Linked DNA regions of Homo sapiens. The protein of the gene in region 1 purifies or fractionates together with the protein of each later gene. This does not show direct contact. Each region holds a gene or a part of one and is shown in the gene's direction. Other genes may lie near its edges.

Evidence for each region.
Region 2: the proteins of SNAP91 (region 1) and CLTCL1 purify together in Homo sapiens (affinity purification with mass spectrometry; one large-scale study listed by BioGRID and IntAct). This does not show direct contact.
Region 3: the proteins of SNAP91 (region 1) and ASNS purify together in Homo sapiens (affinity purification with mass spectrometry; one large-scale study listed by BioGRID and IntAct). This does not show direct contact.

Annotation. Positions count from the first base shown.
Region 1 is NC_000006.12:83,702,597-83,706,252, reverse strand, and holds part of SNAP91 (clathrin coat assembly protein AP180), read left to right. Parts: intron 1-3,326; exon of another isoform or gene 3,327-3,364; intron 3,365-3,656. UniProt on the Homo sapiens protein: Adaptins are components of the adapter complexes which link clathrin to receptors in coated vesicles. Clathrin-associated protein complexes are believed to interact with the cytoplasmic tails of membrane proteins, leading to their selection and concentration.
Region 2 is NC_000022.11:19,236,147-19,239,802, reverse strand, and holds part of CLTCL1 (clathrin heavy chain 2), read left to right. Parts: intron 1-414; coding exon 415-528; intron 529-3,656. UniProt on the Homo sapiens protein: Clathrin is the major protein of the polyhedral coat of coated pits and vesicles. Two different adapter protein complexes link the clathrin lattice either to the plasma membrane or to the trans-Golgi network.
Region 3 is NC_000007.14:97,855,387-97,859,042, reverse strand, and holds part of ASNS (asparagine synthetase [glutamine-hydrolyzing]), read left to right. Parts: intron 1-87; coding exon 88-189; intron 190-637; coding exon 638-765; intron 766-2,226; coding exon 2,227-2,353; intron 2,354-3,583; coding exon 3,584-3,656.

The DNA of each region.
Region 1 (3,656 bases):
CTCATAATAAGAAAGGTATAGGTTATGAATTTGCTACATGCTGATCTATAATTAAAATGATAAATCAGTATACTGATATATTTCAGAGAACATTCACAGGTTTGAACATTTCATTAAAACATCATTCAGATAAAGGCTGACTTCTCCAGATCTAAATATTTAGTCACATTAGTATTTTAGTGGAAAAGTCTTTTGAAAATTTGAAGGTAGGAGGTTTTCCAATATGATTTCTAAGATGTGGAAAATAGGGGGAAGATTCCATGTTATAAAAGAAAGCAGCTGAAATAGGAACTGGTGTTGAATTATTAATATGAATGGTCATAAGAGCTGAACATTTATTGAGCAGTTACTATATAGCACGAACTGAACTTTATATTATTAATCTTTCATCACTTAATGGGTTCAGGGAGGGTAATTAACTTTCATGGCTTTTTTTTTTTCTCTTTGTGAGATGGAGTCTCACTCTGTCACCCAGGCTGGAGTGCAGTGGTGCATTGTCGGCCCACTGCAGCCTCCCAGGTTCGAGTGATTCTCCTGCCTCAGCCTCCTGAGTAGCTGGGACTTACAGGAATGCACCACCACGCCTGGCTCATTTTTGTGTATTTTTTTTAGTAGAGATGGGGTTTCTTCATGTTGGCCAGGCTGGTCTTGAACTCCTTCCCTCAGGTTATCTGCCCACCTTGGCCTCCCAAAGTGCTGGGATTACAGGAGTGAGCTGCTACTTCCCCTGTCCAAACTTTCATAGCTTTTAACCAGTACACTTAACTGCCATCTGTAGATTAGTAATATACTTTATTGAGAGAGGAGAGAAAATGAACCATATTAACCTAAATGGTCTAATCTCTAAAACACCCACCTTGCTTGCATAGCTTTCTGTGGAATTGAGCATCAAAATCCGCGTACATATTGCAGTCTTTATAATATGCATGAAAAAATTTTAATTCTATCATGAAAAAATTGAATGAAAATATTTTAATTCTGTTGCATAAAAAAATGACCAAAAACCAAGCACTGAGGAGTATTGGTTAGTGGTTTTTCTTTTTAATGTTTTACTTTTCTAATAAGTCATAAAATAAAACATCTTCTACTTAAAACCAACTTTTGGATGGAATTTGGAGACATAGTTATCACATTACTAATATGTACTATTCTAAGAGAAGATGATATGGAAAACCTGAATGTATATGTTATATGCATTATTAAGAGGACATCTTTGCTCAGAATTCTTTGTGAAGTTCCTTTAAAGAAACAGTAAACTACCTCAGTAATTTATTCACAGGTTTTCAGTAAACACCAGTTATAAAAGTGAATTGTTATTAAAACATGCAAACACATAATTAAGTTTCTTTATAGGCATTGAAGATTCTCAAGTAGTTGGTGTTTTAGTTTTGAAAATATTAAATACTGGTTGGGAGAAAAAGAGCACAAAATATAGAGTTTGGGGGTTTGAAACAAAAACAATTTCAATTTATTACTAGTTTGATTTGTATATAACTTTTTAGTTTGGAGTTTAGATTGGAAGATTATAAAAACAGATTTATGGTCCTGTCATTTTTTTTTAAAGGTATTGGATTAATTGGGCTCAAAATCCTTATGAAATATGTATTTAATATTAAGGTACTGGTTTAAATGATAAATTCTTTTCTCTTTAGGTTGATAGGCCAAGAAAATTATTATTGTTAGTCATGGTGACTTATAAAATGATTCTTAAAGATATATGATTTATACACTTGAAGAAATGATTTGTTAACATCTGAGGGCAGAATTATATCTGGTGAAAAGGTCGAGATGAAGAAACTATATACATTTATTCCCAGATTTTTTTTCTTTTTTCAGTGACAGCACCTAATAATCTAAGTAAGGATTATATATTTTATGGCACTTTTGGATTATGTAAAACTTTCTTTCCATACTCGACTATAGTGATGTTGCCCTTTGTATGTGAAAATTAAATACCTAACCAATATTGGTTTGACATTAACTTTTCTGGGTCCACCTGTACATCCTCGCCTCCTTTCCCTTGTAACTTTTTGTACCTATTTGCTAGCATATAAAACATCCAGGACTCAATGAGTATTTACCTTTTTAGTTACAACTGTTTGACACTTCAGTGTTGTCTGTTTTTTCTATTTTGTATGTGATGCCCTAAGGGATAGCCCAAGTCAAATAATAAAGTAAAAAGATCAGGTAGTAATAGGCACCCAGTACCTACCCAGTATTGTGTCAAGCTTGAACAATAAAATAGAGTTGGTCCAAAGTAACATCTGCAGGTGTAAATTGGAAAGTTTTGCAGCCCTGCCATGTGATTCATTTCAGTTAATAGTGCTTATGAGTGATTTCTATATATGCTACATTGTTAAAGTATCCTATTTATGATAATCAGAATTCAAACCTAGACATTACTGTTAACATCAAAACAAACCTTATGAAAAGCCAATTTGGTTTTCAGTAATCCTATTTTTTCCGTATTAAACACTTGAAGCTATTTAGTAATGAGCTTATCCCACATGAAAAGCAAGTGCTTCAAGTTCTGAATCTGATGTTTGAGAGATACTAGAATTTTACTAATGATTCCGTTCCTCCCAAATTATGAAAAAGAAAAAGATTATGTTTCTTATAAGACTATCTGGTAAAGGTAGTAGGAGACATGTACTGAGTTTTGATTCAAGACAAATACTGGCACATCAACCCAAATTCCTGCTGCTTTAATTTTATTCATAAAGTATCTGCAAAAAAAGTAAGAAATTTTGTGAGTAAAAATAGAACGAAAATTTAAACCTAAAAGTGAGTTTTCTTTGCATAAATGTGCTTAGTAAATATGAAATATATTTTAATTCATAGAAGTTCTGTTAGCACACTAATTCAGTAGACACCATATATTTATATTTGTGATAATTTAGTAGGGCTTTCAGTAAGTGCTGAAAGATCCAAAAAGTAAGCAAAGTTTACTGAATAAAATTAAGTAGAACAATGTGTAAAAGATTACTAAACACTAGAGTAACTTTGAATTTGAGAAGTGTACTAACTTGCTGTAAATATATTTTAATCTGATTTTTGTTTTCATTTAACTATTAGTTTAAAAAAAAAAAAAAAACACACCCTCTCACTTTACTGTACCAGAACATAATCTGTTCCTTCCTCTTGATTTTACCAGAAGACCCAGCCCAAGGGTGAAGAGATGGGGGAGATGCACTTCTGAAAAGCATTTAATATGATTATAATTCATACCATACATGTGTAATGGGCCCAACGTGTGTGATTCTGTGACATTCTCGAAGATGCTCAGTGTCCTAGGAGGGGAGAGAAGAGACCATGTGATCAGGGTTGGCAGGAGCAGGGGAAGCAGAGTGACAAACAGTCTTAGGTAATAGGAGGGAGCATGCTTTAAAAATGACACAAAAATAATTAAACAGAATTTATAGCAGCTAGTGGAACAATAGGGGTTTTTTTTCCAGATCTTTTTACTTTCTCATTTTCAAAAGAATCTTTTTTTAATGGTATAATGTTAAATATATTTGGGTCACTTTAGATTTTTTTTTTTTCAGTTTTTGCAGTTGGTGTGGTTAGCAGATACTTTCTTAGAATAAAATTGATAACTCAATTTGATTTTTAAAAAGTTGTTTTAGTGATTTAAAATGTTGATATGGAAAAATATT
Region 2 (3,656 bases), on another chromosome or scaffold:
GTCTCGTGAGTTTCGCCTCCAGTGATGAGATCTTGCACTAACAGGCTTGTATGAGTCTGGGCCATACCCAGAAAGGCAGAGAGCAGAGTTGGAAGGGACAGCAGATTCTGACTGGAGCCCTTTGTTTCATCGGCATCCAGGCCCGGGGAGGGGAAGTGACTCTGCCACTGTGCTGGAACTGAGGCTCCAGGCTGCCTGGCATTGGCCCTTTGTGCCATGCTTGGTGGTGGGCAGCAGGTTATTGGATAATCACAGGCACTCCGACAAGGGGGTTGTTCTGCTTTGGTTGAATGTGACTTTTAGCGTTAATCATCCAGTGTGTGGAGCTGAGGCTCCACTTGCCTCTGTGCCTTGACTAGCACTTGCCCACCACCACAGGCGGTCCCCTTGATTGACCTAAAATCTCTCTTCTAGTTGCACATCATTGAAGTTGGACAGCCTGCAGCGGGAAACCAACCTTTTGTAAAGAAAGCAGTAGATGTGTTTTTTCCTCCAGAGGCACAGAATGATTTTCCAGTGGCTATGCAGGTACGAATGTGCTGCTCTCTAAACATCTTCATGTCCTAAAATCTACTCTAGCACCTCCCAAGATACAGGAGGCTGCCATTTTTAGTCTGCTTCTGCTGTCTCCTGCCACTGTGATGCTTTCAAACCCATTTAGAGGCCTAAGGCTTTGGCGTGTGAGCTGGGAAAGCCCTGTTCGTAGAAAGGAATGCCCGGCATGAGGGTGAGTTAGGGCAGCAGGAAGACGTTGCCAAGTCACACATCAAAGTCCTCAGCTCTTTCCTTCTTATTATAAAAGATTAGATGTTCACTGTGGTATGAGAATATTTAAAGAATAAAATACCTAATGTAGGTGACGGGTTAATGGGTGCAACAAACCACCAGGGCACGTGTATACCTGTGTAACAAAACTGCACGTTCTGCACATGTAACCCAGAACTTATAATAATAAAAAAAAGAATAAAACACTTATTTCCTTTACAATTGGCTGCCATTGAGGGAGCCTAGAGCTCCCAGGGACAGTCCTTTGAGCTGGCATTCAGAATGGCCCAGCCTTTGACACGCAGCCTCTAGTGAAACTAGGTAGTCCCAAGCCCCTGGTGGGAGAATTATTCACCTTTACATCAAGAAGGTTGGGAAAACACCTGAACCTGCATGTGGCATGTGCCTAGCCAGACTTCGAGGAGTTCGTGCTATGAGACCTGAAGTTCTTGTGAGGTTCCCTAAAACAGAAACACATGTCAGCAGGGCCTGTGGTGGTTCCGTGTGTGCTAAGTGTGTTCGTGACAGGATCAAGTGTGCTTTCCTTATTGAGGAGCAGAATATTGTTGTGGAAGTGTCAAAGGCACAGAGTCAGAAAACATTCCTCTGTAGATAAACCAGTTGGATGTAAAATATATAAGAAATCTTGGCCGGGCGCGTTGGCTCACACCTGTCATCTTAGCACTTTGGGAGGCCGAGGCGGGCAGATTGCCTGAGCTCAGGAGTTCGACGCCAGCCTGGGCAACATGGTGAAACCCCGTCTCTACTAAAATATAAAAAATTAACTGGGCATGGCGGTGTGCACCTGTAGTCCCAGCTACATGGGATGCTGAGGCAGGAGAATTTCTAGAACCCAGGAGGCAGAGAGTGCAGTGAGGCAAGATCACACCACTGCATGCCACTGCACCGCGGCCTGGAGCAAGACTTCATTTCCAAAAAATAAATAAATAAATAAATAAGAATAAAAATAAAAAATCTTACAATTTGTTTTATAAAAAATTTAGATCTATACCTTTTCTGAACAAAATTGGCATCACATTATATATGTAAGATTATATAATCTACTCTCCTTTTTACTCTTTTGTTCTCATAAAATATATGTTATCTGTACATTTCTAATAATATCAATAAATGTAACAGCAGGATTAAATATCACCTGAAATCCTAGCACTGCTGATAATTTGGCTACCCCTTTGGAAGTAACTTAACATGCATACATTTGTGCAGATTTATACAGATGGACTCTTATGAAAATGGCTCTGCACTAGCCTTGCTGCTGTATAAACTCCTCTAGCTATGTTGTAGATCATTCTGTTCCAGTAACATAATGTATGTATTTTATTGTCTGTGTCATCTGTTCTGTGGATTTGCTACAACTCATTTAAACAATCCCCTGTTGATTGGTATTTACATTTACAAGAAACACTATAAGGAACATTGTGCTCCATACATCTTTGTATGTTAGTCTAAAAGTCCGAGGATAAATTCCTAGAAATTAAACTGCTGGGTCAGGGGCACACTCTCATCACAGACTCTCCTGACCATGCTGGCCAGTTCACATTCCTACTGATGCTGCCGGTGGTAGCTGGACAGCATCCCATGTTGTGATGTCTTTCCCTTGGTTACCATCAAGGCAGAATTGATGTATCAGCCACTCATATGTATCCGGTTAATTGCCTTTTCCTAATCTTTGCATTTTTTTTCTATTGGGATCTTTTTTTAAAAAGTAGAGATGGGGTCTTGCTATGTTGCCTAGGCCAGTCTTGAACTCCTGGCCTCGAGCGATCTTCCTGCCTCAGCCTCCCAAGCAGCTGGGGTTACAGGTGTGTGTCACTGTGCCCAACTCCAGGATTTTTACCTTATTCGTAAGAGCTTTTTGTACTTGTAGAGTACTAAGTGTCTGATGTATTTTGAATATTTTTCCCAGTCGTAATTTGTGATATGTGGCACCTTATGGAAGTGCTGCATTTTTGTGTGGCAGTGGTATCATGTTTTGAGACTAATTCTGCACCTGAAGATGATCACAACATTTACCTATATTTTCTTTCATTCCTATCCTAATTGTCCTTGTTTTTTATTTAAAATCTTTGACCCATCTGGAATTTACTTTGATCTAAAGAGTAAGATAGAAATTCAGTTCTTTACTCTTACCTCCATCTCCAGATAGCTAGCTAACTATATTAATAATATATGTTATATATTGATTAAAGTGCCTATTTTCCACTAATATGTTACCTACTAATTATTTATTTTTCTAGAGTTGGAGTCTTGCTACGTTGCCCAGGTTTGACTCAAACTCCTGGGCTCAAGTGATCCTCCTGCCTTGGCTTCCCAAGTAGCTGGGACTATAGTCATTAGCCACCACACACTCATTCTTAATAAATTCTCATATATGATTCATTCTCTTTCAGGGCTCTTAATTATTTTCTCTCTCTGTCTCTTCCAGTGGTAAAATCATACTTCAAAAATTACTGTCTGTTTTAATATATATGTTTAATAATCTGGTTGGGCAAATGCATCTGTTTTTTCTCCCCAGCCCCTTCAGGTTTTCTTGTGTGTTAAATATTTTTCTGTAAAAGTTAATAGCATTTGGCAAAACTCAAAGGTTAATAAGTGGTGGTAGAAGGCATGCTGGAACATCATCTTGGCGTTTGAGGTCTTTGTCCAGAACTTTCCCCTTCTCTTATGAACTCACAGCTTGCTTAAAGGGGTTCGATAAACTGTGAAAGGATCGCTCTACCTGAAAGATAAATGGAGTAGCCTGAGTTTATTGGACCTTTATTTGAGAGTGGTTGGACAAAATATTGTCTTTAAAACTAATTCTCAATCAAGTACAACTTAGAATCCATGTCTCAGGAAAGCATTGCTCCCACCAGTAATCTCTCGGCCTG
Region 3 (3,656 bases), on another chromosome or scaffold:
TAGATGTTGATGATTGTGTATTTCATTTCAATAACTAATCCAGCCCAAGATTTTCTGGAGCTGTTTGATTTACTGCTGTGTTTATAGGTTTTGAGATAGAAACTGTGAAGAACAACCTCAGGATCCTTTTTAATAATGCTGTAAAGAAACGTTTGATGACAGACAGAAGGATTGGCTGCCTTTTATCAGGTGAAGTCAATTAAAAAAACCTAATTATATTTCATGTGTGTTTAATTGAAATGATTTGTAGCCATCCCTTTGGTTTTTACTATAAAATATTTACTGTATGATTTACTCTTTCCTTCATTATAGGATGGAAATGATTTTTTATAAGCTGTATTTAATAGTCATAGTCATACTCCAACTTGAGTTACACTATAGCTATGTTATTGGTGTTAAGAGTGAGTCAGTGAATGTTCTTTAGAATTCTGTGTAGTGATTTTTAACCAATTCAAATACTACTATTATCACAGTTTATATATTTTTCTCTTGTTGAAGTTGATTTCAGTTTATAAAACTTGGCGGATTTTAAATAGTAAAACTATGATCTTGGTGTTTATCAGGAATATACATCTTCTGTCCCTGTCTTATGCAAGGCACATAACTAGGACACTTCCACTTCCTCTTTTGCATGTAGGGGGCTTGGACTCCAGCTTGGTTGCTGCCACTCTGTTGAAGCAGCTGAAAGAAGCCCAAGTACAGTATCCTCTCCAGACATTTGCAATTGGCATGGAAGACAGCCCCGATTTACTGGCTGCTAGAAAGGTAAGGTGCTGTCTCTGTCCCTTGTGTAGTGTAGTTAGAGTAGACTTGTTATTAGAATGAAAATGGAGTCAATAATGGGTGATTCTACTGCTGCTGTATTGACTGGGTCAATTGTTTTAAATTGATTGTATTAAAATAGAATGAAATGGCTGTTGGATATGCACTGTGTTGTACACTGTCCTCTGTGTACTTTTATCTGTTATGACCCATGCAATTCTCACAAAGACCCTATGATGATAAGTATGCTCTTTTGAAAGTAAAGGTGTCTGGGCATGGTGGCCTACACCTGTAATCCCAGCACTTTACGAGGCTGAGGGAGGTAGATTACCTGAGGTCAGGAGTTTGAAACCAGCCTGAGCAACATAATGAAACTCCATCTCTACAAAAAAATACAAAAACTAGCCAGGCTTGGTGACGCATGCCTGTAGTCTTAGCCTTATGGGAGCCTGGGTGACAGAGTGAGACCTTGTCTCAAAAAAAAAAGAAAGTAAAGGCATAAGTCAGGTGCAGTGGCACACACCTATAGTCCCAGATACTTGGGAGGCTGTGGGGGGAGGTCTGAGCTCAGGAGTTCAAGTCCAGGCTGGGCAACGTAGCAAGACCCCATCTTGAAAAATTAAAAAAACGGGTTTTTTGTTCGTTTTTTTTTTTTTTTTTTTTTAAACGTAAAGGCATAGTATCATGGCTAAGACTGCAGACTTTGGAACCTGACTTGTGGTTTGAAATCCTGGCTCTACTCATTTATGTAACCAAAATAATAGTGTCTGCTATGGGGAAATTTTAAGGTGAAATGATATAATTCATGTAAAGTAAGTAGGGTAGAACTTAGCATGTAGTAAGTACTTAATGAGTGTTAGCTGTTATTATTATTTTTGAAAGTACTGTATTTAGAATACTGTGGGCAGAGGGCAGCTTGTCTGTATTCAGTGAGCGGGAGACCTAGTTCCCACTATGGAGGACTTTCGTAGCATGGATGAGAAAAAGCTAGAGAGCAGTCTCAGTGCAAGGTAATCAATGCCGAGAGAATCCAAAATAGCCAAGGAAAGCAGAATGAGGGGAAGGGCCATTCTATATAAGAATAACATCCTGGATATAAAATTAGGCATTTAAGAAGGACCAAAAAAGACCAAGCTTAGCGTGGGACCATGTTGGACTAGAGAGAGATGAGGTGGGTTAGGTAAAATAGGTAGAGAGGGAGGTGCCAACTGGGAGAATGGTTGAAGCCTTGGCACCAGAGGAGCTGAGGGGAGACTTACTTCCTGGTGGTGGAGTTGAAGCAGGCGAGGGAACAGTGCTGGATGGGGCTTGTATGTGGTGGGCTGTAAAGTCATTTTTCTTTTTTTCCCTTGTTTAGTTTTCACCATTGTTAATTCATAAAGCTTTGTGAACTCCCATCATGTTTGATTTTCAAGGGAAGTTATTTTCTTTAACAAGTAAATGGGTATTTCTTTATATAATAAGGTGGCAGATCATATTGGAAGTGAACATTATGAAGTCCTTTTTAACTCTGAGGAAGGCATTCAGGCTCTGGATGAAGTCATATTTTCCTTGGAAACTTATGACATTACAACAGTTCGTGCTTCAGTAGGTAAGGTATTATGATATTCTTAAATAAAAAGCTTTTTTTAATACTGAAAAAAATGTAAGGTTTAAAAAAATTATTTCAAGCCATAGTTTTAAAATGTTATTTAAGGATGAATGCAAATTAAATCCCTATGTTACTGATTATTTAAGACCACTTAAGAATTCTCTGAATCTCTTTTGGAGTGAAGGGAATAGTAAATACGTAGTTCAACCTCCACATTGTTGGTGTCACTGTTGGTGTTTCCCCAGGGAGCAGATACATATTTTCTGCCCTCTACCTCCCATTTCTCTTATAGTTTCTTGGGCTACAGTCTATATACAGTGAGGAAATAGGTCTTTTTGGTAATGCATTTTTGATAAGAAATAGTCATTTTAGATATATTCCATCACACAACTTACCAGTCACTAGCTATCATTGCTCTGCAAACAATACTAATTTTATCTTGTAGATAATGTATCTACTGAGATTGGAAGTATACCCCAAATCAGACTGATCCAGTGTTATTGAGCCTTTATATGCTACTGCCTCCCTTGAGAGACTTGCCTTGGAAGGCAAAAATATCTTAGGTATTACAATGGTTTATGGCCCTCCAAAACATCACAGTAAATAAGCAGATAGACAGGATAGCTCTGGTATTGGAATTTCATGGGGCTGGGGTGAGGTTAGGAAAATAAGTGTCTAAAAAGGCTCTCTAGCTGAGGTGATAATAAAAACAAGGTTGAGAAGAAACACTGGTTTAGAGAGATGTGGTGCAGGACCAAGGAGGCAAGTTTAATAACTTATATAGTCTCCCCAGCTTTATGTGAAATCTGGTAAATGGGGAGTGGCAGGGGGAAAATACCCATCAAAATTAACACTAAACCACCAAAACGGTTATTCTTATTTTTGTGTCATAATACCACTATGAAAGGCATGATTTTTAGGTATTTGAGTCATTGTTCAGCTTAGCAAAGTTTTGAGGTGGACATTCTTGGTCTAAAAACATTAGAATTTTAAAACCTGTTTAGAAAATGACAAAATGGTTCCGGGTTATTTTATTTTACAGTAGTACTTTTGGATTAAGTACATATAAATGGCTTATAAATACAAGGTCATTATTGTGGAAACTACTTTATATTAATATGAAGTCCAGTATAGTAGTAAAGCTTTCAATTATTTCCAAAAATCAAATCAAAGGCATTTTTGGTGGAAGGTTATGTTGACATTAAAGTTAATTTCTCTCTCTCATTTAAGGTATGTATTTAATTTCCAAGTATATTCGGAAGAACACAGATAGCGTGGTGATCTTCTCTGGAGAAGGATCAGA